5 separate regions of the Homo sapiens genome follow, and all the other regions are linked to region 3. The links come from fine-mapping of genetic effects on gene expression. A gene starts in region 3. Each other region holds a variant in brackets. All regions are shown on one strand. Distances are from middle to middle.

Region 1 (6,111 bases), 520 kb before region 3:
AGATGCTTTTTAGCTGCCTATTTCCCTGGGAAGCAAAGACCAGTGTCTACAGCTAAGGAGAAAATCAGCACTTAGAAACTTGGATTAGATTTCACCCAACCCTTAACAGTATTAATTCTCCCAAGTTATTTTTCCTCTTGCAATGTAAGATGATTCTCTACACTTAATAGTTTAATTCCTTTGGGCCATTACTATTGGGGATGCATATTTAAGGGCTGACTTCCTTTTATATATATCTTACCTTTTACCATTTATTAATTTTTTGGAGAGTTTTTATTATTTTTATGTACAGAAAACTCAACAGTGTACATTTAACCCAGTTTAGTGGCAAGTTCCTCTGCCTTTGCTATTTCCAGCTTGGCATTGTGAGCCACAGATTTTGGACTCGGGACATTGCAGATCTCATCATATCCGTCATTGTAATTTGTCCTGATAGCTTCCACCAGCTTAGCCAAAGCTCCTTTGTCTTCCTGGTTAACTTGTGTGAAGGCCACAGTGGTGCTTCCTGTGGACTGGATGTCCCAGTCTTGCCTTCTTACCCCTTGATAATGCATTAAGGGACCCCCCATTTTAGGACACAGGACAGACAGAAAGTTAACCAGCTTGATGGGGTCCACACCATGTGCAATACCAGCTGAGCCTTCTTCTTTTCCAGCAAGGTGGTGATAGTGTTAACCCCTGCTCAAAGAACAGGTGATTTCCTAGTGGGGACAACCCCTTTGCTAGCAGCTTTCTTCTCAGCCTGGGCCAACAGTCTCTGCTTCTTCTCTTGCTTTGTCTCTGGTCAGTACTTGTGGATCAGCTTAAGTGGCTGAGTAGCTGTTTGGGGGTCTAAGGCTTGGGTGAACTGGTTAATGGCAGAAGGCACTTTCAGCTGCTTATAGAGGATAGCTCTTTGCAGCTGGAACCAGATATAGCGGGGCCATTTCACAAAGCAGCGGAGGTCCCTTTTGGGCTGGATGTCCTGTCCAATGCCTGCCTAAGAAAACTCTTAGGCCTTTTCTCACACAGCGGTTTCATCACTTTCTTAGCCTCCTGCTTCCTCACGACGGCAGGGTCTGGGGCCACTTTCCTTCCTTTGGCCATCTTTCCTTTCAGCATCTTAGGCAGCTGACAGAGAGAGACATTTGACCATTTAAAAAGGAGAACACCTTTATTTAGTCTGTCAAAAGCATGCTTCCTTCCCTCACTGAATGTTGCCTTGCCTAGAGTACTCTTCACGCATTACTCTGTCATCTCACTTATGGTACTGTAACATGTTGCACTATTTGAAATGATCTTTTCTGTTTGCCTGTCTGCTGCCTGGCTCCCTCATGAGAAGATATGCTCTATGAAAACAGGAGTAATGTCTGCTTAGTAAAACATGTGGGACACAACAGGCACCATTGTATAAATGAATGAATGCGTGTCACTGGGGCATTTGCTAGCCGTCCCAAATGTCTAAGTGAAAATATACACAGAGACGGGATAACATCTTGTTATTTTCTCTCAGCATGAAATTCCTGAAACAATTCTGTTGATTGAGTTTTTAAATTAGTCAAATATTTACTAAGAATCTGTGACGGGCAAGAGATTCGGGATGCCTATCAGTCCTCTCTTCCCCCAAAAAGCAAATGGCCTTAAATTCTCACAACATTCTCAGAGTAATTTAACAGATGATTGTTCCTGTGATCTGGATAATTGCTTTATTTTTAATTGTCTGTTGTTTTTTTTTCCTCACCAGGTGTAGGGAGTGAAGTCTCAGATAAGAGGACCTGTGTGAGCCTCACTACCCAGCGACTGCCGGTTAGCAGAATCAAGACCTACACCATCACGGAAGGCTCCTTGAGAGCAGTAATGTGAGTCTGCCTCCTCAGAAGTTGTGCTGGGTGGGTATCTAGAAGTATAGAAATACACTCTGTAGAAATGCTGCCGTCCTCAGGAAAAGTAGGTCAGCATAGAGGAACACCTCAACTTAACCAAAAACCTCTTTAGTTTTCCTTATCAATCATGTCTTTCTGCAGCCCAACCGAATAGCGATTATTGCAGAAATTGGGCTGCCAAAGAAAGAATAGAAGTCCTCCTCTATTTAGCTTAGTGGAAGAGTCTGTTGAATACTGTGCACAGCTCTGAGACCTGGGTTTAGAGATGACTGGCCCATGTCAGGGTTTCCCTGCAAGCCTCACTGGAGTTGGGGGATCTTAGGGTTGAGTCAGGCAGAGTCCCATACTTTTATCAGTTGCCATATTTCAAGAAAATGAGTCAATGCACAACCTACATGGTCCCTTTCTTCTACCAGAATCTCATTTTTAGAAGTAATAACTCTTCTCAACATGTAATTGCAAGCTTTACTCTAAAAAATGAAAATGTAAAAATCACTTTTTATTTAAAAAATAAGATGAATATTTTTAAATTTGAAAAGGAAGAGGTTATGTAATAATGGAACTAGTTGGCCTCAAAGTCTTTTTGTTACAACATTTGGTGACATGGATGAGAAAAGGACCCTGTGAATTATTGTGAACAAAGGGGCTGGATACTACTTGCAGATATTACTCCTTTATGTTAAAATAGATGGCAGAAGAAGGGTACTCATTTATGATCTCATGGCTCTGAAAGACTATTTCTTGCAGTAATTTCTGCACAAGATCTCTTCATGTCTGCCCTGATCTTAACTCCTGACCCTGAGGCTTTGAGAATGTGGCTAACTTCGTCTGTCTTTTCCTTGCGTTACAGTTTTATTACCAAACGTGGCCTAAAAGTCTGTGCTGATCCACAAGCCACATGGGTGAGAGACGTGGTCAGGAGCATGGACAGGAAATCCAACACCAGAAATAACATGATCCAGACCAAGCCAACAGGAACCCAGCAATCGACCAATACAGCTGTGACTCTGACTGGCTAGTAGTCTCTGGCACCCTGTCCGTCTCCAGCCAGCCAGCTCATTTCACTTTACACGCTCATGGACTGAGTTTATACTCACCTTTTATGAAAGCACTGCATGAATAAAATTATTCCTTTGTATTTTTACTTTTAAATGTCTTCTGTATTCACTTATATGTTCTAATTAATAAATTATTTA[T/C]TATTAAGAATAGTTCCCTAGTCTATTCATTATATTTAGGGAAAGGTAGTGTATCATTGTTGTTTGATTTCTGACCTTGTACCTCTCTTTGATGGTAACCATAATGGAAGAGATTCTGGCTAGTGTCTATCAGAGGTGAAAGCTATATCAATCTCTCTTAGAGTCCAGCTTGTAATGGTTCTTTACACATCAGTCACAAGTTACAGCTGTGACAATGGCAACAATTTGAGATGTATTTCAACTTGTCTCTATAATAGAATTCTGTTTATAGAATAAGGGAGAAAATAATCCAGTCTTCACTGGGTTCCCATTCTGAGGGTCCACTACTCAAAAATTTGCTTCACTCAATTTTTTTCACCTCTTTGTGTTTTATTTTGGTGTCCTATTAAAGGAATAAAATGACACAACTTGTCCCTTTTTTGTCCCATTAGCAAAAATTAGAATTTTGGTATAAAGAAACTTTATTCAAGTAAAAATCAATACCCTTTGAATTGGACAATAATCTCACTACCTTATTAGGATTTCTGTATTTGCCATTACGCTAGTTATCATGCATGTTATGCTTTACTGCGAATAAGCTTTTAATGCTCCAAATGCTGACCCATGCAATATTTCCTCATGTGATCACAATTTGCAGTAAACTTTTAATTAAATGCTCATCTGGTAACTCAACACCCCAGATTCATGCTGTCTTGTATGCTAATTAAATTGCTGATTTGTTTCATGCTTAGGGTTTTACTATCCAAGTAGCTGACGATGTATACATTCTCTTCTATCAGACTCTGAATAGGAAGACCTGACCTTGCCTTGATAGTTTTAAGTGAAAAATATTGGCTGTTGTTTATTCTTGTGGGGGCATTTAACAATATCATGAATTTTCAGAGGGTAGATGAAAGCAACTTGTTCAAATCTGCTCACTTCTAGTCATACAACTAGTGAATCAGAGTGGAAACTACTAAAAAGTTGCCTCCTAGCAAACGGTGTGGTCACCTATCCATGTTCATTGATATTTGTCTAAAATAAACTTCAGAGGTGGTCTTAGAGAAAGCAATCCCTTAATAAGAACAGACATCCTGCTTCATGAAGGCTGAAAAATAACAAAGTCACAAAAGATGAATGGAATGGTTTGTCTGCCAAATGTCTCCCAGACCCTAAGGATTTATTTGGGATAATAATAATAGGATGTGTGGAAGGATATGGGCAGTGCTTGACTTTTCATTTTATGGCTGTTCTATCTTTTAAATAATAAATAGTTGTTAAAATATATAACCATAGCTATTTTCTTGCTGTACAAATATGAGCTCACTTAATCACATTACAGAGCTCAATTAAAGACAAGACAACGGAGGCATAAAAGGGTTAGTTAACTTTCTGAAGGTCCCTTGGTCTGTGAGGGGTAGAGTTTAGATCTGAACTCATGCAAGATTCAGGGTGTTGACAACTGTGTCACGCTGTCTTTCTCACTTCAGAAGACAATTCCCTTCGGGCCAAACCATATGTAAAGAGATGATTCAGGGGTTATCCTTATTTAACCTACAGACTTCATTCATTCATTCGTTCAATAAATGTTTACTGAACGTTTATTATATGCCAGAAACTGAAGACACAGCAGAGTGAACAGGACAAAGTCACTGCTTTCTTAGAGCTTACATTCTGGGAAAATCTTTCTTGCTTCCCTTCCCCAGGAACTCACTCCACCAATACATTGTTATTGCATGCCTAATGGATTCCAGATGCTTGGCTGGGCACTGGAATGCAATGGTGAAACCTTCAGGTGTTTATCTTCTGGGGGTTTACACTGGGGAGACACACAAGTAAGCAAACGATTTCAATGCAGTGTAATATGTGGGATGATGGAGAAAGCAGAGGGTGTGAGCTTTGGACACACAGGAGCAAACCTATCCAGATCTTAGCATGAATGGAGGGTAAAGATGAGCTTCCCCTTGAAAATATCCTCTAACTTGAGACCGGAAAGAAGATTTAGAGTTATGCTGAAGGTTTCAGTGCATTCTAGGCAAAGAGAACAAGCATCACAGGCAAAGGCCTGCAGGTAAGAGGAATCCTGATGAATTAAGGAAAGGCAAGTAGTTTAATATGACCGAGGGACAGTGCGGGGGTTAGGAAGTGGGTGCAAAAGGTGAGGTCAGGGAGGCAGAGCAGATACTATGAAGGGCCTTGTCTGCCAGACCAAAGAGCATGTACTTCGTTTTAAAGGCTGTGGGAAATGACATCAGCTGCCAGGTGGAAGATGGAGCGTAGAGAACAAGATAGGAGTCAGGAAGCCAATTGGGAGGGGGCTCTGGACCTCGTGACTTCTGAACTTGGCCTGGCGTGGTGCAACACCTTTTACCTTTACTTCATGGGCCTTTACTGCTTAGCCAGGGAGCACATTAGTTATGCATGACTGTGTGACTCACGCTGTGGCTCAGTTGTGCATGCCGAACACCTTGGGCCAGTGACTCCTTTCACCAATTTCCTTGGCTGTAGAGAGCCAGGGCTTGGATGGGAGAAAATAGCATTCCTGGAAATCACCTTATTACTTTCATTATTCTTTGGCTAAGCTAAAGTTGGATCAGTGAGAACACAATTGGAGCCAACCACCCAGAGGAAGAAGGAGGCTGGGTTGTATCAGTGGAGTTTCAGAGATCCACAGACCAAGCCTTTTCTAATGTATTCAATGTCCTGAATATTTGCTGAGCACCTGCAGAGCACATGGGAACAGGATCTAGCCTGCTGTCCTGATGCTCATGACAGTCATCAAAGCCATTCCCATTTGGATGTTCCAAATGGCCCAGCTCAGGGCTTGACTTCCCTTGGAGACCTTTCTGATGTCACCAGTCTAGATGAGCCCCATCACCCCCATGTACCTGCTCAGCCCCTGGGCTCATCTCTGTTACTGCTTATATCATCCTGAAATACCATTTTATTTGACTTTATTTTCTGTCTTACTTAGAAGTAGGTTAAGGACTATGAATTTGATGTCTATGTACTTGTGCCTGGGACATCATAGCCTTCCAATACATTTTTGTGATAAGTACTACCTTATACATATC
Region 2 (5,561 bases), 33 kb before region 3:
CATCTTACAAATGAGAAATTTGAGGCATAGAATTATTTGGTTATTTGAGCTTCAGCCAATAAGTCTGAGTCTAGAACCTGTGCATTTAATTACTTTGCCACCACCTCGCATAGTTTCAGGCTTTGGCAGAGTTTGGTAGAGCAAAAGACTTTCCAAACTGTCTCCAGGGACCAACCTTTGCCTTCTGTATCTCTTAGCCTATTACTAAGGTAAGGTCAGGAATGATAACTTCTTGGTCAGCCTCATGTTACTGCCTTGGGAAGATTTTGAGAATGGCCATCTCTGTTTCACCTTCTTCCCCTGGCACATGAAACGTCTTTTGGGATGTGTGTGTGACTCAGGGACCTGCAGGCTGCACTATGTTTGAAGATTTTCAGATATCATGTGCCAAGCACAGAGTATTATTATTGAGGATATTTTCCTATACAGTTTTTTTGGCATCTTCTTCACAAGCCAATAATCTTTTATTGGCACTAACTTATATTGGCAAAAGAAAGAGGACAAAAAACACGAGAAACAGGCTGAGTGAAATACCAGCTCTCCCCTGAGGACTGGTTGCTGGCTGAGCTGCCCAAGCCTGTCACTCACCAGAGATGAAGATACTCAAGAAAAACAAGATACTCCCTGCTTCTTGACAGAGTGTCCAGGACCTTCCCAGGAAATGAAACCAGAGAAATATCTTAGGCTTACTTCTCAGTGGTTAAAAGCTGGGACTCTTCAGGAAGACAAAGCTGGATTTGATTCCCGGCTCCTCTACATCTTGGCTGTGTGAACTTGGGCAAGGTTCATACTCTCTCTTGCTAAGCCTTCATTTTCATTTTGTAAAATGGAAGTGATAATCATAATAATGCCTTCGTTACAGGGTCTTTGTAGGAAATAAATGAAGTGATGTGGAAAGGTGCTTACTACAGTGCCTCATACGCAGTAAGCACTTGATAAATGCTGGTGTATTATATTAGTGGTGGGATTTGAAATAAGCCTGGGGTAAAAAGGGGATGGTGGTGGTGCTGCTCCTGGTGGCGGTGGTGGTGATGGCAGTGGTGGTGGTGATGGTGGTGGTGATATTTTAGCAATTCTCAACAAAGAGTCAGGAAAAAAAGATTAGATTTCAAAGAATACTCTAGGGAAGCTCACATCCCACAAAAGCTATATTCCTGAGAGATTATCTGGATTTAAATATTTAAAAATTAAACCTTGTTTTTCTATTAGATTCTTTTATAATTCCAGAAACATTTCTGTTTGATTTTGATAAATTTAACTCTTTACTTTAAACAATGTCCTTGTGTCACCTCTTTCTAGCTTTATGTTCTTAGGCAACATTATTCACTTTCTTTTTTTTTTTCTTTGAGATGGAGTCTCACTCTGTCACCCAGGCTGGAGTGCAGTGGCTCAACCTTGGCTCACTGAAGGCTCCACCTCCCGGGTTCAAGTGATTCTCCCACCTCAGCCTCCTGAGTAGCTGGGACCACAGCTGTGCGCCTCCAGACCCAACTAATGTTTTTTTGTGTGTGTGGTTTTTTTTGTATTTTTGAGTAGAGATGGAGTGCGTAGGCTGGTCTTGAATTCCCAGCGTCAAGTGATCCGCCCACCTTCGCCTCCCAAAGTGCTGGGATTATAGCCTGCACCCAGCCTATACACTAATTAAAATATCAATTTTCTTCATCTGTAACATTAAGCTCTGGAATCACCTGAGATAATGTCCATGCAAGTGCTCTGTAAATGTGTAATAGCCCCCTATAGAAATTGTAAATTACGGCCGGGTGCTGTGGCTCACACCTGTAATCCCAGCACTTTGGGAAGCCGAGGTGGCCAGATCACGAGGTCAAGAGATCGAGACCATCCTGGCCAACATGGTGAAACCCTGTCTCTACTAAGAATACAAAACTTAGCTGGGAGTGATGGCGCACACCTGTAGTCCCAGCTACTCAGGAGGCTGAGGCAGGAGAACCACTTGAACCCGGGAGGCGGAGGTTGCAGTGAGCCAAGATCTTGCCACTGCACTCCAGCCTGGCACAGAGAGAGACTCCATCTCAAAAAAAAAAAAAAAAAAAGAGAGATATTGTAAATTACAATGGGTCCAGTGCTACTCTCAGCTGGACTCCTTACTTAAGACATTCATAAAGTAAAATATACTTTCAAATGGAAAATAACAACAGCTTAGTTTGTCCTATTAAGTTTGACTTTTGTATAATATATTTTCTTAAAGAAGACAAAACTGTGGAGAAAACTGTGCTTAATGAAGTACAAGCAATATGAAGAAAATATTGAAAAACTTGATTAAACTTGATTAATATCTTTTTTTATTTTGGGTTTTTTTTTTTTTTTTTTTTTTTTTTTTTTTTTTTTTTTTGGGAGACAGAGTCTCATTCTCTCACCCAGGAGGGAGTGCAGTCGTGCAATCTCAGCTCACTGCAACCTTTGCCTCCTGGGTCAAGAGATTCTCCCACCTCAGCTTCCTGAGTAGCTGGGACTACAGGCACACACCACCACACCCAGCTAACTCTTTTTTCCTTTTGCATTTTTAGTAGAGACAGGGTTTCCCCATGTTGCCCAGGCTGGTCTCAAACTTCTGACCTCAAGTGATCTGCCCACCTAAGCCTCCCAAAGTGCTCGGATTACAAACATGAGACACTATGTCCAGCCTGAAAAACTTGATTAACATCTTAGGAAGGTGATATAATTCTTTTGTCATAGAATTTTGTCAGAGAAAGGCAGAGCAATGGGTGTAGAACAGAAAAGTTTTCTACCAAGTTATCACAGAATCAATCTCTTCAGTCTCTCCCAGATTCCAGACAGCTGGCCAAATATTACCAAATTAATTGTGCTAACACACTGGTTTTCATCTTATTGCTCCCCTACTCAAGAATTCCCAGGGGTCCCTAATTATCCATGTGGAATGCTCCAGTTCCACAGCCTGGCCTTTAAGTGTCTTACTTTACCATACCCCGCCACTCCCCTTCTCTGCCTGGGCCCTGCCTCTCTCTGTAATGTGCATTATCCACTCCACCCCAGCTTTATTGTCTCCTGATCAGTGTGCACTTCTCTCCTACCACAAACATTTGCTCACCTGTTTGTTTTTTCCTCTACTGTTTCACCTATTTTATTCCTACATACCCCCATTAATTTTCTTCCTTTTGCATGTCTACATTGTCTTCGTTTTCTGCAATATTTGTTATTTAAATCCTAGTTGTTCCTAAGGTCCACCTCCCAATATTCCTTCCCCAAAAGCCCTGGCTGGCATGGATCACTCAGTGCTGGGATTACCCCTGCATCTACTGGAGCTCTTAGCTTTCCTGTGGGTGGATCTGTCTCCACGGCCAGATTGTTCCTGCTCTAGGGCCAGGGCTAGCCCTTTTATTTCTTGTGCATTGTGTTTTGTTTGTCCACGGCCAGATTGTTCCTGCTCTAGGGCCAGGGCTAGCTCTTTTATATTTTGTGCATTGAGTTTTGTTTGTTCTGTGATCCTTTCCAGAAAGGCTTGAGGGCAACTTACAACACACACGCACACACACACACACATGCACACACACAAGCACACAGGCACGAATGGCAAAATATAAATAATAATACATAGAAGAGAAGGACAACGAAGGTAATTAAGACTCTAACTTCCTCCAGTTTCTGTCAACCACAGGTACTCTATCTAAAGAC[A/C]CTCAAACTACAAAGAGTCAGTGTCCTAATATCCACATGAGCACCTTGTTACTGAAACCTTAGCAAGGAAAGAACAGGAAGAAAACCAAACACAAGTGAAAAGAACAGAAGTTGCAACAGAAAGAATCCCAGGCTTTGAATTTCTCATTCATTCATTTATCCCTTTATGCAATAAAAGTTTTTAAAGCATCTCTTGTATACAATGTACTGGCTATGTAACTAGTTCTATAACTTAAGTGAGTCTCTATCTAAGCCTCATTTGTTAAATAATAACAATTAAAAATTAAAAAGGGGGATAAACTTATGTTCTTTCCCTAATGAATGCACAATAAATTTGGAAGAAAACATTATTTCCATAGATAACACTGAAAGCCAGGACGGGTCCATGTCCTGAAATCTAAAACTAGTTTGGAAATTAAACACTAATTCTAAAAGAGATCTAGTGTTTTCTGACTTTTTAAATATTTCATGTGTGGCTTTTCTTGGACATTTCCATTTATGAAGAGAATGAGATAAATCTGATCACCAATAAATGCATAAAAATTAGTCAACCTCACTGGTAATCAAGTAATCAAAAATGTAGTACCATTTTGAAGATAATGTAAAACCACAATGAAGGCCAGGTACAGTGGCTCACACCTGTAATCTCAGCACTTTGGGAGGCCAAGGCAGGCAAATCACTTGAGGCCAGGAGTTCGAGACCAGCATGGTCAACATGGTGAAACCCCACCTCTACAAAAAATACAAAAAATGAGCTGGGTGTGGTGGCGCACACTTGTAATCTCAGTTACTTGGGAGGCTGAGAGTTTCTTGAATCCAGGAGGAGGAGGTTGCAGTGAGCTGAGATTGAACCACTGCACTCCAGCCTGGGCGACAAAGCAAGACCCTGTCTCAAAAAAAAAAAAAAAAAAAAACCTCACACAATGAAATCCCACTATATACCCACTAGAATTTCTAAAATGAAAAAGATTTACAACATGTATATTGGAGAGGATGTACAATAAATGGGACTCTGACCAATGTGGAAATTAGTATAACCGCTTTATTTTATTTTGTTTTGTTTTATTTTTTTTTTAGATGGGGTCTCACTCTGTTGCCCAGGCTGGAGCGCAGTGGCATGATCTCAGCTCACTACAACCTCCACCTCCCAGGTTCAAGTAATTCTCTTGCCTCAGCTTCCCAAGTAGTTGGGATTACAGGTGCCCACCACCATACCTGGCTAATTTTTGTATTTTTAGTAGAGATGGGGTTTCACCATGTTGGGCAGGCTGGTCTCGAACTCCTGACTTCAAGTGATCCACCCACCTCAGCCTCCCAAAGTGCTGGGATTACAGGCCTGGCCAACATGGTGAAAGCCCGTCTCTGTTAAATAAAAGTACAAAAAAATTAGCCAGGCATGGTGGTACATGCCTGTAATCCTAGCTACTCAGGAAGCTGAGGCAGGAGAATCGCTTGAATATGGGAGGTGGAGGTCGCAGTGAGGCAAAACCGTGCCACTGTACTCCAGCCTGGGTGACAGAGCAAGTCTCCATCTCAAAAAAAAAAAAAAAAAAAAGTTAAAATGCACATCTACCCTGTGACCCAGCAATTCCAGTCCTGGCTATTTATCAAATATATATATATATATATGTCTACAAAAAGCCTTGTTCAAGAATGTTCATAGCAGCTTTATTCATCATAGCTAAAATTAGAAATAATCCAGATATTCAGCAACAGGATGAACGAACTGTTATATATTCATACAATACAGTAATAGCAATAAAAAGGTAACAAATTCCTGATATCTGGAATAACTTGGATGTCTCAAAAAGATTATATTGAATGAAAGCATATATGGTTCCATTTATATGAAATTCTAGAATCTACAGTGATATAAATAATCAGTGGCTGCTTCTGGAGTGGAGAGTGAG
Region 3 (5,935 bases):
TGTTTTTCAAATCTGGTTCGACCTCATGCAGCCTGCCAAGTTGCGCCCTCTCTTTTGCAGGCACCCCTCACTTTAGCTTCTCTGAACAGAAGGATCTTACTGCTAGGGGTTGATTTGTCCTGCCTCTTCTCCCAGCCCAGCTTCTGACTGGCCACCTTGCTACAAACAGGACTGCTCTGTCCTGCTTTTACCTGCCAGCCTGTCTGCCTCCAGCGTAGATTTTTCTTCAATCGCAAGAGCATCTATTCATTTCCTGAGTTAGAACATGTCATCCTCACTGGGACGGAGGTCTCTCACCGCTCTCCTGCCATTCCTGCTCTCCGCTTCCCCTCATCCACCCACAGAGCACTAACCTTGGGCAGAACCAATCACAGGACTCCAGAACCATGCCTCTTCCCCAGCCTGCACTGAAAAAAGGGATTAAAAATTGTTCTCTTCCTCCTGAGCCTTTAAACTGAACTGAATAATTTCTTTCTCCTTTCTGCAGAGAAACACTGGGTTTCCATACGCATTGACTGAAAAGTTGTCTTAGTTCCCCATGGTCCACACCCTCTTCCACGCCCAGCCACACACTCCACCTGCCGGGGCACCCCTCCCTTTGGAGAACCACACATGTTCGGCTTTCAACCTGCTGCTACAGCACCCTTCACAGAAGGGGCCTTGGAACAAAAGCCCAGCTCAGCACAGCCCAACGGGACATAAAGTACTTGAGTTATTCATTACTTGAGTTGGAGGAGGTCACACAGCAGGAAGCGCACTGGAAAGCAAGGGGAAAGGTGGCAGAGAGGGTGGGGAATGCGTCAGGGTGACCTTCTAGGGGCTGATGGGAACTCAGAGTCCTGGTATGGGGTGGGTATCAGAGTGGGAAGGTGACAAAGTCATAGCAACAGCCCCAAGGTTAGCCAAGGTCAAATGGAAACAGCTGATTATAATTAAGCTAGCTACTTAGCTCTTGCCATGCCTCAGGCACTGTGCTTAACACTTTCCCATATCGCTCCTTTTATCCTTGCAATAATGTATCACTTCAATTTTATGACTGAGGGAACAGCCCTGGAGAGAACAAGTGACTTGCCCAAGGTCACCCAGCTAGCATGCATGTTCTGAAGCTGGGAAGGTGAATGTAGGTCTTTACCAGCTTGTTCTGTGTGATGAAGTGGTTAGATGAGTGGTACAATTCCAGATGGTCTAGAGTGGCGGGGCAAGTGGAGTCTGAGATGAGCTACTGAGATAAATCTGGTTCCTATAGGGCTGAGATCATGTTTTCCAGCAGCAATCCCAGGACTGGGTGGAAACCTGGAGGTTTTCAGGAAGGCTGGAGGAGGCTGGCTTAGGATGAGCTGCTGCATTGGCTGTGCAGACGTGACCCTCAGGACTTCATCTGAACCTGTGAAGAGTTTCCATGCAGGGAAGGGGGGATGAGTAGAGCTAGGGACCTAAAATTTGAGAGGGGAAGATATTCCCCAGTGGAAGACAGTAAATCAAAGACTAGAGACCAAGCATCAGTCTACTGGGTGTTTGCTACACCTCTGAAGAGCTAAGGTAGGACACTTGTTTTAGGAAAAAAGAAAATCTGTCACTGGAGACTCTCTTTATATATTTTGTCTTACCATATGCTTCTTTTGGAAGGGGGGTTGGGAATCAAGGTACAGGAACGGAGTGGGCACAAGTAAGGGCACCACCAACTCCCAGAACCGCCTCATCCCTTCCCATGCTACCCTTTCCCCACTCATCTCTTTTTGCTGATTCTGCCTACAGGTTTTCCCTCCTGTTACAGTAATGGACACTCAACAACACATACCCTTCCCAGCAACCTGTCCTGCTGGAAAACTACTCGATAAGGTAACTTCTGCCTGAAGGGGACCAGGGTCATCATACCCGCAAGTGCAGCATCTTCCTGCAGCTCTCATACTACCAAGCTGGGGTTTTTCCAACATAAACATTACAGGTGCTAAACGAGAGGTGGCTTCCTTTCTCAATAAGCTGTTCTCTCTCTCGGATGCCCTTGACAGAGCCCTGCAGCCTCCCCCACTGGGGCTTGGTGGATAGGTGGTCGCTTCTCCCCCGAATTTCAGGAATGTTTAGGTTTGCACAGGTCCTGCAGGCGAGCTTGGAGAAGGATTAGAAAAATGCTCATTCTTAATCAGTTCGGGCTTGTCTTTATGCCAGCGAGGTTGACCTTGGGGACAGAAGGGTGGCCAGGATAAGGACAAGCATCCTGGTATTGGGGAATTCTCTGATATGGGGCTGGGACGTCAAGATGGGCCATGATGGCCCCTGGGGATAGGGCTTCTCTGCAGTGGAAGCAGAAGCATCCCGGTGTTTTCTGCTGTGTCACTGTCCTCAGAGGGATGTATAAAGCTGCTTGGGGGCTCATAGGAGAGGGATGAAACCAAGAGTTTGGCTTTCCAGCAACAGCGGACAAAGAGTGGGAAGGGGTACTCTATGCCCCAGGTCTGCAACATCTTGCCCTATGCGCTAGGTTTTCCCAAAGGTCCTTTGGCTCCAAGAATTTTACAGCAGAACAAAGGGATCGATACCCCCAAGGGGGCATAAAAGCATGCCAATGAGAATACCCGCCGCCGACCGGGCACCAAGAAAGTCCTCGGTGGCTGGGTCACGTGCAGATATTGTTGCCTGGGGTCTAGACTGGCCTGAGTCTCAATTGGTTTCTACGGGACAACTCACTGCGGGCTACCGCCCTGGGTGGGTTTGGCAATTGTCCTGCTCGAGGTGGTTCAGGCCGCCCACAAGGGGCACAGCCGGGCAGTCAGGAACCGGGGCTGCCGGCTGGGCTGGCCTGCAAAGAAGAGGGAAGGGCCGGAACTGCAACCGCAGTGGCGGGGAGTGCGAGGGGGCGGCAGGTGCAGGAGCGGGAGGCGGGGCGGAGCTGGGCAGAGTCCTCGCCAGTCCGGCGTCCCGGAGTGACCTTCCCCCACCCCGCCAGCGCCCAGGAGGGGTGGACCCACAGCCCAGGGAGGCCGAAAGCGCGGGCGGGCAGGCAGAGGCGTGGAGGCTGGGCCAGGACTGCCGGGCTGGGGTCCTCGAGGCTCCGGGCGACCCAGGTGCGGATCCCCCAGCCACGGAAGGGGCGGTTCACGCCCAGCCGGGAGCTGGGAGGGGGCTGCGCGGCGCTGCCTGCGCGTCCCTCACCGCCGCCCCCGCCTCCTCCTCGCCCCGCGCCCAACGCCCCGCGCCCAGCGATCCAAGCGGCCCCTCTAGCCCCGGCGGCTCCTTTGTGCCGGCCCCGAACCCGCCCTCTCGGGCCGAGTCCCTGCCCCTGGCGCCGGCGATTGGCCACCGGGCCGCTAGAGGGCGGGGCGCACGGCCGCCGGGGCGCGGTATATAGTAAAGGTAGGGCGGGCGCAGCCAATTCCTCGGCTCCTGGCGGGAGTGCCGGTGGCGCCCCGCAGTCCGCTTGTCCGTCCTTCCCTCTCTGACTCTCCTACCCCGGGCCTGTCTCTGCAGAGGTCAGGGGAGGCGGGGGCCCAGCACACGTCCCCAGTGGCAGCGGGAGCGGCAGCTACGGGTTCGCGGAGCCCCCGACCCCCCAAGGGCTAGAGGAGCGCTCGGCGGACCAAAGAAAGCCCGCGAGCGGCTGCGCGCCCACCAATAGGTGCGGGGCTCGGAGCCGCGCAGCCTGCGCCGTCCCTCCCTCCGCCCCCGCCCCGCCGCCGCCGCCGCCGCCGCCTCCCCCTCCTCCTGCTCCTGCCTTGGCTCCTCCGCCGCGCGTCTCGCACTCCGAGAGCCGCAGCGGCAGCGGCGCGTCCTGCCTGCAGAGAGCCAGGCCGGAGAAGCCGAGCGGCGCAGAGGACGCCAGGGCGCGCGCCGCAGCCACCCACCCTCCGGACCGCGGCAGCTGCTGACCCGCCATCGCCATGGCCCGCGGGAAAGCCAAGGAGGAGGGCAGCTGGAAGAAATTCATCTGGAACTCAGAGAAGAAGGAGTTTCTGGGCAGGACCGGTGGCAGTTGGTGTAAGTACGGGGTCCGCAGCTCCCGGCCGCCGCGTCTGATCTTTCCCGGGCGGCGCATCCCCTGCGCAGGGTCCGCGGCCGGTTCCGCACCCACCGCGCTGGCCGGGGTGGCGGGGGCGAGGGTGGTGGACGCTGCTGGGTCGCGCCGGCCTGGGCTTGCAGTCCTGTGCGGAATGCGGTGTCCCCAGAGTGGGGCGCAGGGTCGGGGCTGGAACACGACAGGCGGAAGGTTATGCATATCGTAGCGATCTTGGCTTGGTAATTTGCAGTCTTTCCTACCGTGCATCGGTTGAGCCTTTTACTCCTGGGAATAGTCAGGCTCTGCGAGACTACATTTGTCTCTCCCGTGTCCTGAGTCCTTAAAAAAAAAATGAGATCTGGGGTCTTGAGAGAACCTCGTGAGGTGATGGGATCTAATGCAGACGAGGTTGTGTGTTACAGCATCTTTCTTCTAGTCTAAATACGTATCTCAAAAGAGAGGAAAGAGAAGGGTGGAGAGGAATCCATCCACACTGTAGTATTTCACAGCGATGGCTAAGGATTTCCCTCCATGACCTCCCCTGGAGTCATCACCACCCAGAAATGGTTCAATAAGCTCCATTTCAGGACTCCGATTCTTAGCTTTGGCCCGAAACCTGGCAAAGTCTGGTTGTTTTCAAGGTCTACACAGACAGTTGTGGATCAGTCAGTAGGTTGGGTTGATTATGGTGAAGGGAATATAAACGCAGAGCAGCTGATCTTAAAATATTTTGTGCAGCCTGTTGCTTGGTTGGATAGACTTTTTTCCATCGAAAATTAGATTTCTTGTTTTCAGCCTCTCCGGAAAGGTGACTTTTTTTTTTTTAAAAAAAAGGTCATTTTGAAGGGCAGAGTTGTAGGCGAATCTATGAGTCGTGACTGCGTGAGGGAAGGAGGGAGGGAACTCCCCCTGCTGCATCACTGCCCCCTCCTCCTCCAACATCATCATCATCATCATCATCATCATGACCATCACCACCAACACCACTGGCACCACCACTGCAGTCATTCAGGGAGTCCTGAACAGAGGCCGATTGGTGTTCCTGCTTGGGAGGATCTGTGGGAATCGGCAGGAGAATGAGTCAGGGAAATAGTGCTTAGCTGACATTTTGAAATGGAAGAAGCTGGAATATATGAATTTTTGTAAAGAAAAAAAAATGCAGCCTGTGAGTCTCTCTTGATTGAAAATTAAAGGGTTAATAATGCATCACACTTCAAGGTTAGTCAAGGTGAAGCGTCTTTCCAAGGTGTTACTGGGAAGCATAGGTATCCCTGAGCCATGGAAAATGTAGTTCTTTAATGGCTTTTAGCTTTTGTTTTATATTTTATTTTGGGGAGACTTCTTCATTGAGATTATTGTCATAGTGTCTCAGGCATAAAGGTAGTTTCCTGTGTTTTACTGTGGAAAGGAAAACCTGAAGAACTGTGGGGTGTGTGTAGAATGAACAGCTCCCTGGCAACTCCTTGTAACTTGAGGGAGGCCTGGAAGGTGCACTGCGGTATGGGCACCCTTCTCCCCAGGTTAGCTGGGGCTTCCTTCTCTGGTGGTCTGACCCTGCTGCGTCACAGGGGCAGGGGCTGCATTGACTCTAGGCACATTGTGAAATTTGCCTTCTTGTCTTTTTCCCCTTAGTATAATATGCATCTTTGCTCATTCCAGTTTCATGCTTCTCAGAATAATACTTGCTTTAGAGGGTAAGGCAGTATGGACTGACTCATTTTTAAGCCGACATTTAATGGGCAGCACCTCCATGAGAGAGAGAAAGAGAGACCGTGTGTGTCAATTTTTATGTCTTGATATCCTATCCAGCAAGCTATCAGTATGCTGATTTGTGAATGTAGACCCAGGACTGCTGTACTTGCCTCCTCTTCCCTTCCATGTTCCACGGTACAGGTGCTGGGCTAAAAATCCCCTTTTTGTTTTGTGCTAATATGTCTGCCCCTT
Region 4 (6,115 bases), 220 kb after region 3:
TTGAAATGTTGCCTTCACTAAAATAAATATAAAATAGAAGAAATGACACATCTAACTAAAGCAAATGAAAAATCCACGAAACCTGGTACTTCCATTTATCCATGTAGCCTATCCACCAAACCTGCCAACCACACTCTTTAATTCTGAATTGGGCAGCAGAATTTTGCACTATACTCTATCCAGAAAAGAGTTTTAATACAAAGAAAATAAACTGAGGAACTGTTGCTTCTGGCTATGACAAAGTAGCTCACAGCAAACCAATGCTACTTCTAAGAACAACTAGAAAAGTAGGATATCAAAGATTTGGAGAGCTTTTAAGGCAGCCAGGATCTGAGGATCCAAGATCCAGAAAGACAGGAAGCCCATTGAAGTGAAACCAACATTCATTGCGTTGTCTTTACTCGTAAGACATGTGCTGAGTCTCAAGTCAAGCAGACAAGTGACTGAGAAGCCTAAGAAGCTGGTAGAGGGAGCCCACCAAGGGACAGAGAAACAGGTACAAAAGTGAGCTGAAACCTGTGCTTGTTCAGTAGAGCTTTTGGAAACGAACTCCCAAGCTAGTGCTGTTTCCTCTGTGGGAAAAGGTTTATTACTCCAAGTACAAATTATATTCAAACTTGATTTAAACTTAACTTTCTGGTTTACCTTTACAGTAAAAACTGTGTTTACTTCCTAGAGTTAAAAGATGTACCTGGAGATATAACAGTGGTACATCTGGACTTGGGATAAAACATCACAGTGAGGTTGGCCTTTCAACTACCTGCCTGACACACATGCACATACACACACCATCCAGACCAAAGCCACCCTTAAAATTTAAAGAAAATTTACTTTTCAGCTTTGTTGAGCCAAATCTAGAAAAAAGGAGGAACTTGGTTTCCTTCCTCAAATGCTATTAAAGCTATATATCATTTTGTTTTAACTCTTCACTTTATGGATAAAGAAACTGAACTCCAGATAATATAAATGACTAGCATAAGGTCACAGAGCTGGTTAATAACTGAGCCAAAACTGGAAACTACATTTCCTATGACTCAGATATTTCCATATCACTAGCCTTCCAGGGCCAACTCAAGAGAGAGAAACTAACACTTTAGTAGCACATAGATACACCTTGAGTTGTCTGTCACAGATGCTCTGATGAGAATGCCACAACCTAATGATTACACAGACAATCATTAGCTCCTTCTTCCCTGAAGATTCCAACTTCTATCAAAAGTACTTTATGAGGAACATTTAAAGATTACACTGCATCAAAAAGAGACTTTCTTAAAGAAGCCAAATCATTTTTCCTCTTTTGAACATTTTAAATATAAGTTATACATAATAAAAGAGTTGATCCCTCACACATAATCACACTTTGTTCCAGAAATCTTAAAGTCTTAAAGGAAAATGTGTATTATTATACCAGAAGTCTTGAAGTGACTTGAACTGGACAATGTGGTATTATTATACCCAGAAGCCTTAGTATCTTAAAGTCTTAAGGTCTCTGTCTATACAGAGAGAACTTTCCTAGAGCACCAGTCTTACTCGATGGTAAGTAACGTAAACAATTTTTACACTGCAACATGCATATATGTGTATATAAATATATGTTATTGAGTGGAATGTAAAATTCATATAAGTTTTATAACAAAAAATAGGTGATTTTATGGAAATATTGACCAATATTGGAATTGCAAGTGAAATTATATTTGAAGATTAAACAAGTCTTTGGAGAAATAAATCACACCACCACCTCTCTCTGCTACTGTTTAAAGGAAGGTCCAGCTTTACAGTGGATCATATGAAATTAACAATCTTTTCCATACAGATATACTTTAAAAAATCCAAACTCTCAGTTCAAGAGTAAGTTTAAGCGTATGTTACCAAGCAAAATTGTACCTTGGCCTCATTTCAATAATACTGATCAGAAAGCTATTCCATTCCTGATGATACTATGATCATCAATCAACAAATACCAACTGGGCCTGGTACTACTAGCATGCTGAGTGCAACGAGCACACCAATCTGATAAGTCTGCTGCTGCTGGTGCTACTGCTGCTATCATTTGCTGGCAGCCTACAGCAAGAGACATGGCCCTGAAATGTGTTGCTTAAAGAGAAGATCCAGGAAACTATAAAGGGGTTTTTTGGAGGGGGGGATTATGGAGGAATATTTGTGAGAGTCCAAAAGACCTGGGCAAGACTTAATGTCTCTAACTCTCATTTTCCCCATTTGAAAAATGGAAACAGTACTTTCTTCATAAGGTAGTTTTGGGGATTAAATGACTTAGTTTACATGAAGCACTTAGGATTTCTGTTGCCTATGTCTCCCAAAGCGATGATGGTGGCTTATAGGTCCACCTGTGACTTTAGAACTGCATTGTACACACTCATCTCCCTCACTGATCTTTTTCTGACATACAAGAAGAGCAACTCTGGATTTGTGATGATGCAGCCTCAGCTGCAACTAACCCTAGGTAAATAGTTTTTTAAAGGTCTTTGCAGAAAAAAATCAGTATGAAGGAAAAAGGGATTTATGATGGACAAAAAAATGACTAAAATTATATTTATAAATGAAAATAAAAACTATTGAACATATAATACTAGGTAAATTTTTTTGTAAAGGATATATCATATTAATAAATCAGAGCCAAAGTACAATTCTTACCTTTTGGGGAGTTCAAACAGTTATAGATCTGTTTTTGTCAATAAAAATTTTAGTAACAATTTTCTTTTTAAATTTTATAACACTATCTGTTGCACATTCATCATTAGTTTTATAATGGACTTAGGGTGCCCCTTAAAGCAGATATAGCTTAGATCATAATACCCAAGACTTTTCAAATACATGTAAAGCCTTCCTAAGAAGGATGGGTACAAACATGCCAAGATTGCAGACTACAGTAAATACCTAACTTTTCAGTGCCCAGACACAGATGAACATCCACAAGTATCAAGATCATCCAGGAAAATATGAACTTACCAAATAAACCAAATAAGGCACAAGGGACCAATCCTGAAGAAACAGAGATATGTGACCTTTCAGACAGAGTATTCAAAATAGCTCTGCTATAGGTTTCAAAATCAACCCTGGCTAGGGGCCTGAAGCAAACCAGTTTAGTGCTAACAACAACAA[A/C]AAAAAAATCTGATCTAATTTTTTTCACTTTACTTTCTCTCCCACATATTCCTTATTTCTCACTCTACCGCTCCAAGCTTCAACTTCCTTGTTCCTAAATATTTTATGAAAAAGTTCAAAACACTTTTTCTTCTGGATAAGTAATATTTGTGTTTTCTTAATGTCATGCTGTGGTTTGAATTTTCAAATTTCATGAAAATTTGTGTTTCCTGAAAAAAAAAAAAAAAAAAACCTCTGCTAAGGAAACCCAAGAAATTCAAGATAACACAGAGAAGAAATTCAGAATTCCATCAAATAAATTTAACAATGAGATTGAAATAATTAAAAAGAATCAAGCAGAAATTCTGGAGCTGAAAAATGCAAAAAGCGTACTGAAGAAGGCATCAGAGTCCTTTAATGGCAGAATTGATCAAGCAGAAGAATTAGTGAGATTGAAGACAGGTTATTTGAAAATACACAGAGGAGACAAAAAAAGAATAAAAAACATGAAGCACACCTATAGGATCTAGGAAATAGGCTGGAAAGGGCAAATCTAAGTTATTGGTCTTAAAGAAGAAGTAGAGAAAGAGATAGGGGTAGAAAGTTTATTCAAAGGGCTAATAACAGAGACCTTCCCAAACCTAGAGAAAGATATCAATATCCAAATACAAGACGATTATAGAAAACATTAAACAGATTTAATCCAAAGAAGACCACCTCAAGGCATTTAATAATCTAACTCTCAAAGGTCAAGGATAAAGAAAGAATTCTAAAAGCAGCAAGAGTAAAGAAGCAAATAAACAATGGAGCTCCAATACATCTAGCAACAGACTTTTCAATGGGAACTTTACAGGCCAGGAGAGAGTGTCATTACATATTTAAAGTGGTGAAGGAAAAAAAGACTGTTACCCTATAATAGTATATTTAGTTAAAATATCCTTCAAACATCAAGGAGAAATAAAGACTTTCCCAGACAAACAGAAGCTGAGAAATTTCATCAACACCAGACCTGTTCTATGAGAAATGTTAAAGGGAGTACTTCAATCAGAAAGAAAAAGACATTAATGAGCAACAAATAATCACCTGAAGGTAAAAAACTCACTGGTAATAGTAAGTACACAGAAAAACACAGGATATTATAACACTGTAACTGTGGCGTATAGAGAAATGCAAATCAAAACCACAATGTGGTACCATCTCACACCAGTCAGAATGGCTACTAAGAAGTCAAAATGGCTGGGCGTGGTGGATCACACCTGTAATCCCAGCACTTTGGGAGGTTGAGGCAAAAGGATCACGAGGTCAGGAGTTCAAGACCAGCCTGGCCAACATAGTGAAACCCCCATCTCTACTAAAAATACAAAAATTAGCCAGGCATGGTGGCAGGCGCCTGTAGTCCCAGCTATTTGAGAGTCTGAGGCAGGAGAATTGCTTGAACCCGGGAGGAGGAGATTGCAGGGAGCCGAGATCGCACCACTGCACTCCAGTCTGGTGACAGAGCAAGACTCTGTCTCTAAATAAATAAATAAATAAAATCCATTACAAATGTTACTGGAGAAATTAAAAAAATCTTTAGTGGCTACTACAAGCAACTATATGCCAATAAACTGAAAACTCTAGAAGAAACAGAAAAATAACCAGATATATACAATCTACCAAGATTGAACCAGGAAGAAATTCAAAACCTAAAGAGACCAATAACAAGTAATGAGATCAAAGCCATAATAAAGACTCCCAGTAAAGAAAAGTCCAAAAAATAGAGGAGGAGGGACTACTTCCAAACTCATTCTACGAGGCCAGTATTACCCTGATACCAAAACCAGACAATGACACATCAAAATAAATAAATAAATAAAACTACAGGTCAATATCTCTGATAAATATTGATGCAAAACTTGTCAACAAAATACTAGCAAACTGAATTCAGCAATACATTAGAAAGATCATTCATTATGACCGAGTGGGATATATCCCTGGGATGCAAGGATGGTTCAACATAAGCAAATCAATCAATGTGATATGTGATATCAAAAGAATGAAAGATAAAAACCATACAATCATGTCCATTGATGTTGTAAAAGCATTTGATAAAACTCAACATACCTTCATGATGAAAACTCTCAAAAAACTGAATATAGAAGTAACATACCTCAACATAATAAAAGCATATTTGACAAATATGACAGACCCACAGCTAGTATCATACTGAATGGGGAAAAACTAAAAGCCTTTCCTCTGAGATCTGAAACATGACGAGGGTGCCCATTATCACTACTGTTGTTCAACATAATAATGGAAGTCCTAGCTAGAACAATCAGACAAGAGAAAGATATAAAGGGCATCCAAATTGAAAAGGAAGAAGTCAAATTATCCTTGTTTACAGATGATATGATTTTATATTTGGAAAAACCTAAAGACTCCACTGAAAGACTCTTAGAACTGATAAATTCAGTAAAGTTGCAGGATACGAAATCATACAAATATCAGTGGTATTTCTATATGCCAACAGTGAACAATCTTAAAAAGAAATTTTAAAAAGTTATCCCATTTACAATAGCCACAAATAAAATAAAATACCTAAGAATTAACAAAAGAAATGAAGATCTCTACAATGAAAACTATGAAACACTGATGAAATAATTTGAAAAAGACCAAAAAAAAAATGGGAAGCTATTCCATGTTCATGGAATTGGAAGAATTAACATTGTTAAAATGTCCACACTACCTAAAGCAATCTACAGATTCAATGCAATCCCTATCAAAATACCAATGTCGTTCTTCAAAGAATAGAAATAGAAAAAACAATTCTAGAATTTATATGGAACCACAAAAAACTCAGAATAGCCAAAACCATCCTAAGCAAAAAGAACAAAACTGAAAAAATCACATTAACTGACTTCAAATTATACTACAGAGCTATAGTAACCCAAACATCATGGTACTGACATAAAAACAGACACATAGACCAATGGAACAGAATAGAGAACCCAGAAAAAATCCACACACCTACAGCGAA
Region 5 (5,905 bases), 24 kb after region 3:
TGAATGGCTGGGAAATTGCTCTGGATTAAATGATGAAACTTATGGCTACAAAGAGGGCAAACCGTGCATTATTATAAAGCTCAACCGAGTTCTAGGCTTCAAACCTAAGGCAAGTAATATTTTAAATGATAGAATTTAGATGAGTCATTTACACTAAGTACTTAATTGATCTGAGAAGACAATGTAAGATAGTTTTAAAGTATACTCAGTGCTGACTTTGAAACGTAGCCAGTAGAGTAACACCAAAAACTTCTGTATCCACCCTGCAATTCTTGTAGTTAGGACATTAATCTCATTTTCTAAAGTTAAAGGAATTCTGAGAGGCAAAGCTGCATTCTGAAGTGAGTCTGTGGCCCTTTTCTTAATACTCCTGCTCAGTATCCAGATAACAGTTTCTATAACATAAACTCTTTAAAAAAGTAAAAATGGAAAAATATATTTTTTCCCTGGTGGTCTAGTGGTTAGAGAAAAAAAAAAGTTTTTTATTTTTTACTTCATAAAGAATGGATTAAAAAAAAAATTTTAACCCACTTGCATGTATAGTCCAGTTTTGGTCCTCTGGAAGCCACAGGAACATTTCAAAAAAATTGATAATCTGAAAAAATATTTTTTCTGAATTTTATTGCGGAAGTAGAAGTTTAACATCATCTAGGCTGAATTTTGCTAGCCATGCTGTTGGCTTTTTGTATTACTGCAACTTATAATGGATAAACATTACTCTGGATCACTGAAAAATGAGCAAATTGCCATTGCTCACCATTTGGTGAGATTATATTCTCCATAAGAATGGAAAATTTATCGTTGTTGTCTGCTTTTGTAAAGCTGGTCATTTCATCCTCTCCTCCAGATCATGAATTAATGCTGTCCTTTCCCCTTAAGCCTGGCTTCTTCTGGCAGGTTTCCCCCTAATCACCCGTATATGAGCGTTGGCATTATGAGTGTTGTTTCTAATTTTGATAGAAATTGACTGCAGTATATTGAGTTATGTGAACAAACTCATTTCATTTCTGAAATCTGGCACTTTTGTTCATTAATTTTCTATTGAATGCTATTAATTTATTTCTACAATGCTTGTTACCCATGAATAATATTTTCAAAAGAAAATCAACACAGAGATAAAAAGTTTTGTTAACTGAAGGATGCATCAAAGTTCCTTTATTGCCATCAGAGGCAAAAATGAGTAGGTGGGGATGGATGGTTGCCTGGCTGGCTAGTTTGATGGACTGCTGGCAGAAATTAATGTACCTCTCAAAAGGATTTTAAGCTTCTTTCCACATAGACAGGATATAATGGAAGAAAAACGGTGAGAACCATTATGCCAAAATGTATTTGATATTCATATTGCTGGGGAATACTTCACTGAGATCAATCAGCTATTTAGCAGCAAAAGAAATTGTTGTGGCATGGCCAAGAGAAGACTCATCCCATACTTTCTGAGTACCTTGCTTTTGACATTACTCATCGTAGACACTGAATGACATTTGGACCCCACAGAGGCAGTCTAGTCTATTGTGATTGATTTCTTCCCACATCTTTAGAGTTACTTGGTTCAGTGATAAATTCAGCTACTCTTTCTTTTCAGTCCTTTTTTTCTTTTTTCTTTGGTCTCTACTTGGTTATCCATTGCCACTGCCTAATTCATCACCTCCACCCAAATCTCCAACTATTTTGGAGTTATTTTTGTCAGAGATCAGAGTATCCCAGCATCTCACTATCCTCACCATTGGAGGATAGATTCTGGCAACTTCTTAGTGAGCATTTTCTCTACATATTTTTAAAGACAAATACATTGCTGGCAGAAACGTCCCAAAGAGTCAAATCTAGACGATCATTTTCTTGCATCCAAAACAGAGTAGTAGCAAAATAGTAGTTCCTTCCTGATGTGGAACTAATATTTTATCTGACTTTGATTAGACTATGTATGTGTTACATCTCACATCAAGACTCACTTGCTGTGCTGATCTGAGTAAGCAAGTGACTGTCTTCCAGCGAAGTATGTTCATCACACTTCTGAGATAGATTTGAGCCATGGGTGTAGAAGAGGAGGCTCTGGATATTTCATGACAGCAGTAATTTTCAGACTGTCCTCTGGGTCCCTTCAGTGGATTCACCCCTTCAAGACCACCCTTCCTCTTAGGGCAGTGACACCTCTGCCTTTTTTACATATTGGACTTTCCTAAGAAAATTGCAAAGAAA[C/T]GCTCCTTAAATGGCAGTCTCCCCGACTGGAGATTAAAACAACAAAAAAGGAAAGCCTACTTGAAGTCATGCTTGAGGGAAAAGGATGACATTATTTATTCATGACTCAGGAGGAAAGCCCACGCTTTATAAAAACAGAAATGTCAATCATCTTTCTCATGTAATCTAATCTTAGCAAATAACGAGCATTATATTTTGGGTTGACTTAGTTTTCAGTGTCTTTAAGCAAAGCTTATAATGGGCTACTATTAAAAGTTCCATTTAGTACTGGTTTGCATCACAGCTTAATTGTAGTCGTTATAAACTTGGGCACTTATTTTCATTTCAGCAAAATCACAAACATGACCTTAAATTGGTTAGGGGAGTCATTCATTCTGCTGTCCTGATGTCTTTTGTTATTTTGGTTGACTTACTGTGACCAGTGTGTACTTGTTTGGACTACGGAGTAGTTTTATTTTTCAGAAACTTAAGAAATCATTTACAATCTACTGATCATAATGGGTTTTATTTTTAGCCTCCCAAGAATGAGTCCTTGGAGACTTACCCAGTGATGAAGTATAACCCAAATGTCCTTCCCGTTCAGTGCACTGGCAAGGTAAAGACAAATTTAGGGTTACTGGGGTGGTGGAAGGGTAGGCAGAGGAAGAGGGGAGAATGAAGAAGACTGTTTAAGTGACAGGTAGAATTTTAATAGAAGAAATAAGAAACATTGCTTTCAAGTATAAGTCTCAGTGAGATGAATTGTAGCTATACTAGGTAAAACTTTTTAAAAGAACAGAAAGATGTAATCAGAATAAGACTGATGTCAGTTTCTCCACTGGCATAAGAAACTCAAATATCTGAATTTAATACATTGGGATATTTGCTTATCAGAACTGAGAGGTGAATTAGCCCACAGAAGTACTTTCTGGCCCACAGCATGTATTAAAAATTTGGGGCCAACATTAAAAAAAAATTAATGTCACATAAAAATTAGTGGTTTGGGCTTCTCTTTTAAAAATATTGAAATATCGCCTGGTGCAGTGGCTCACGCCTGTAATCCTAGCACTTTGGGAGGCCGAGATGGGCAGATAATGAGGTCAAGAGTTTGAGACCAGCCTGGCCAACATGGTGAAACCCTGTCTCTACTACACATACAAAAATTAGCTGGGCGTGGCGGCGCGTGCCTGTAATCCCAGCTGAGGACCTGAGGCAGGAGAATCGCTTGGACCTGGGAGGCGGAGGTTGCAGTGAGCTGAGATCACGCCATTGCACTCCAGCCTGGGGACAGAGCAAGACTATCTCAAAAAAAAAAAAAAAAAAAAAAAAAAAATTGAAAGACTAAGGTAACAATTAGTGCATGTTTCCTTTGGATCCAAAAACTAATGGACCGTTTAGAGAGAAAGGCAGAACAAAGAAAGGGAGTTCCCAGACAGTGCTAGCACCAAGCAAGGAAGTGGAGATTGATTTCTCAACAAGAAAATGAGAGGCAAGTAGTAAACTTTGGAGATAATATCACTAGACAGATTATTTACTGGGCCAACAGCAAGGTGTTTCTGCCTTTCAATGTTGGCCTTGTTTCTAGGAGGCTTGAAGAATGCTTATTTGGCATTTGACTCAGCTTCCCCATCCATTTGCACATTGAGAATAGTCTCTTCTTATGACCATTTCTCAAGGCTGCAATGGAATAGACTGAGTAGATGTTCTTTCCTCTCTCAGTAGTTTGCAAACTACTGTGTAGATTGAGTCTTGTTTTTGAGTACACATAGTGATGCATGATGTGAGCCATTAAAATTTCATTTCATTCTGGATTTCAGCGAGATGAAGATAAGGATAAAGTTGGAAATGTGGAGTATTTTGGACTGGGCAACTCCCCTGGTTTTCCTCTGCAGTATTATCCGTACTATGGCAAACTCCTGCAGCCCAAATACCTGCAGCCCCTGCTGGCCGTACAGTTCACCAATCTTACCATGGACACTGAAATTCGCATAGAGTGTAAGGCGTACGGTGAGAACATTGGGTACAGTGAGAAAGACCGTTTTCAGGGACGTTTTGATGTAAAAATTGAAGTTAAGAGCTGATCACAAGCACAAATCTTTCCCACTAGCCATTTAATAAGTTAAAAAAAGATACAAAAACAAAAACCTACTAGTCTTGAACAAACTGTCATACGTATGGGACCTACACTTAATCTATATGCTTTACACTAGCTTTCTGCATTTAATAGGTTAGAATGTAAATTAAAGTGTAGCAATAGCAACAAAATATTTATTCTACTGTAAATGACAAAAGAAAAAGAAAAATTGAGCCTTGGGACGTGCCCATTTTTACTGTAAATTATGATTCCGTAACTGACTTGTAGTAAGCAGTGTTTCTGGCCCCTAAGTATTGCTGCCTTGTGTATTTTATTTAGTGTACAGTACTACAGGTGCATACTCTGGTCATTTTTCAAGCCATGTTTTATTGTATCTGTTTTCTACTTTATGTGAGCAAGGTTTGCTGTCCAAGGTGTAAATATTCAACGGGAATAAAACTGGCATGGTAATTTTTTTTTTTTTTTTTTTTTTGTTTTTTGGCTCTTTCAAAGGTAATGGCCCATCGATGAGCATTTTTAACATACTCCATAGTCTTTTCCTGTGGTGTTAGGTCTTTATTTTTATTTTTTTCCTGGGGGCTGGGGTGGGGGTTTGTCATGGGGGAACTGCCCTTTAAATTTTAAGTGACACTACAGAAAAACACAAAAAGGTGATGGGTTGTGTTATGCTTGTATTGAATGCTGTCTTGACATCTCTTGCCTTGTCCTCCGGTATGTTCTAAAGCTGTGTCTGAGATCTGGATCTGCCCATCACTTTGGCTAGTGACAGGGCTAATTAATTTGCTTTATACATTTTCTTTTACTTTCCTTTTTTCCTTTCTGGAGGCATCACATGCTGGTGCTGTGTCTTTATGAATGTTTTAACCATTTTCATGGTGGAAGAATTTTATATTTATGCAGTTGTACAATTTTATTTTTTTCTGCAAGAAAAAGTGTAATGTATGAAATAAACCAAAGTCACTTGTTTGAAAATAAATCTTTATTTTGAACTTTATAAAAAGCAATGCAGTACCCCATAGACTGGTGTTAAATGTTGTCTACAGTGCAAAATCCATGTTCTAACATATGTAATAATTGCCAGGAGTACAGTGCTCTTGTTGATCTTGTATTCAGTCAGGTTAAAACAACGGACAATAAAAGAATGAACACATTCCTCGTGTGTGATTCACTCTTGTCTAAATGTCCCAACCTGTGACTTCTTTACTTTCCACACCACTAATTATCCAAGATCTTGAAGAAGTATTGAACCTGAAACGGAGAAACACATAATTTCTTAGTTCAGACAAATTTTGGTCTTTTCCACTTAACAGAGTCCAAGAGGTTGGTCAGGACTTCAGACACTGGCATACCCCTTCCCAAAGACACTAAAAGTTAATCAATCAATCAGAGGCAGAGAATCGATGAAGCTCCAGTTTGAAGTTCCATTTAAAAAAATCATCTTGCAGTGCTACTGCTACTTCACTCAGTTTAGAAAACATGAAGTGTTGGTTCCTGCTATTGCTTCACTAGACATATGTGTTAAAAAAAAAAGTTGTTAGCACTTCAGTTTTTAAAAAATGAGGTTAGGTTTGTGGTTCAGTAAATTAAGGTTCATACCTTGCTTTTTGGTTCAGGGATTGGCCTAAGTCCTTATTT

The links. PIP is the estimated chance that this variant, and not a neighbour inherited with it, causes the effect.
Region 1: its variant is fine-mapped to the expression of ATP1B1 in whole blood (TOPMed, PIP above 0.99).
Region 2: its variant is fine-mapped to the expression of ATP1B1 in transverse colon (CEDAR, PIP 0.95).
Region 4: its variant is fine-mapped to the expression of ATP1B1 in monocytes (TOPMed, PIP 0.90).
Region 5: its variant is fine-mapped to the expression of ATP1B1 in whole blood (INTERVAL, PIP above 0.99).

What each region holds. Positions count from the first base shown.
Region 1 is chr1:168,578,340-168,584,450 of GRCh38, forward strand. It overlaps XCL1 (X-C motif chemokine ligand 1), which reads left to right. Exons shown (of 3, transcript NM_002995.3): 2 at 1,724-1,838; 3 at 2,713-3,730. The coding sequence ends at 2,881. It also overlaps the pseudogene RPL7AP21. Among named protein-coding and RNA genes, the nearest start is that of XCL1, 4.8 kb to the left of the region's middle. The variant T/C (reference allele first, on the strand shown) is at 3,059.
Region 2 is chr1:169,070,172-169,075,732 of GRCh38, forward strand. All of the region lies in intron 1 of LINC00970 (long intergenic non-protein coding RNA 970), which reads right to left. Among named protein-coding and RNA genes, the nearest start is that of LINC00970, 14 kb to the right of the region's middle. The variant A/C (reference allele first, on the strand shown) is at 3,652.
Region 3 is chr1:169,102,955-169,108,889 of GRCh38, forward strand. It overlaps ATP1B1 (ATPase Na+/K+ transporting subunit beta 1), which reads left to right and starts at 3,736. Exons shown (of 6, transcript NM_001677.4): 1 at 3,736-3,972. The coding sequence starts at 3,876. It overlaps LOC101928596 (a long non-coding RNA gene), which reads left to right and starts at 1,170. Exons shown (of 2, transcript NR_135799.1): 1 at 1,170-1,539; 2 at 1,756-1,953. RefSeq lists enhancers at 2,153-2,726, 3,217-3,511, 3,300-3,872, 3,873-4,445 and a silencer at 2,784-3,703.
Region 4 is chr1:169,326,065-169,332,179 of GRCh38, forward strand. The region is part of intron 1 of NME7 (NME/NM23 family member 7); the gene reads right to left. Among named protein-coding and RNA genes, the nearest start is that of NME7, 39 kb to the right of the region's middle. The variant A/C (reference allele first, on the strand shown) is at 3,121.
Region 5 is chr1:169,127,300-169,133,204 of GRCh38, forward strand. ATP1B1 (ATPase Na+/K+ transporting subunit beta 1) reads left to right here. Exons shown (of 6, transcript NM_001677.4): 4 at 1-109; 5 at 2,711-2,791; 6 at 3,993-5,420. The coding sequence ends at 4,256. NME7 (NME/NM23 family member 7) reads right to left here. Exons shown (of 12, transcript NM_013330.5): 12 at 5,232-5,518. The coding sequence ends at 5,486. Among named protein-coding and RNA genes, the nearest start is that of ATP1B1, 24 kb to the left of the region's middle. The variant C/T (reference allele first, on the strand shown) is at 2,197.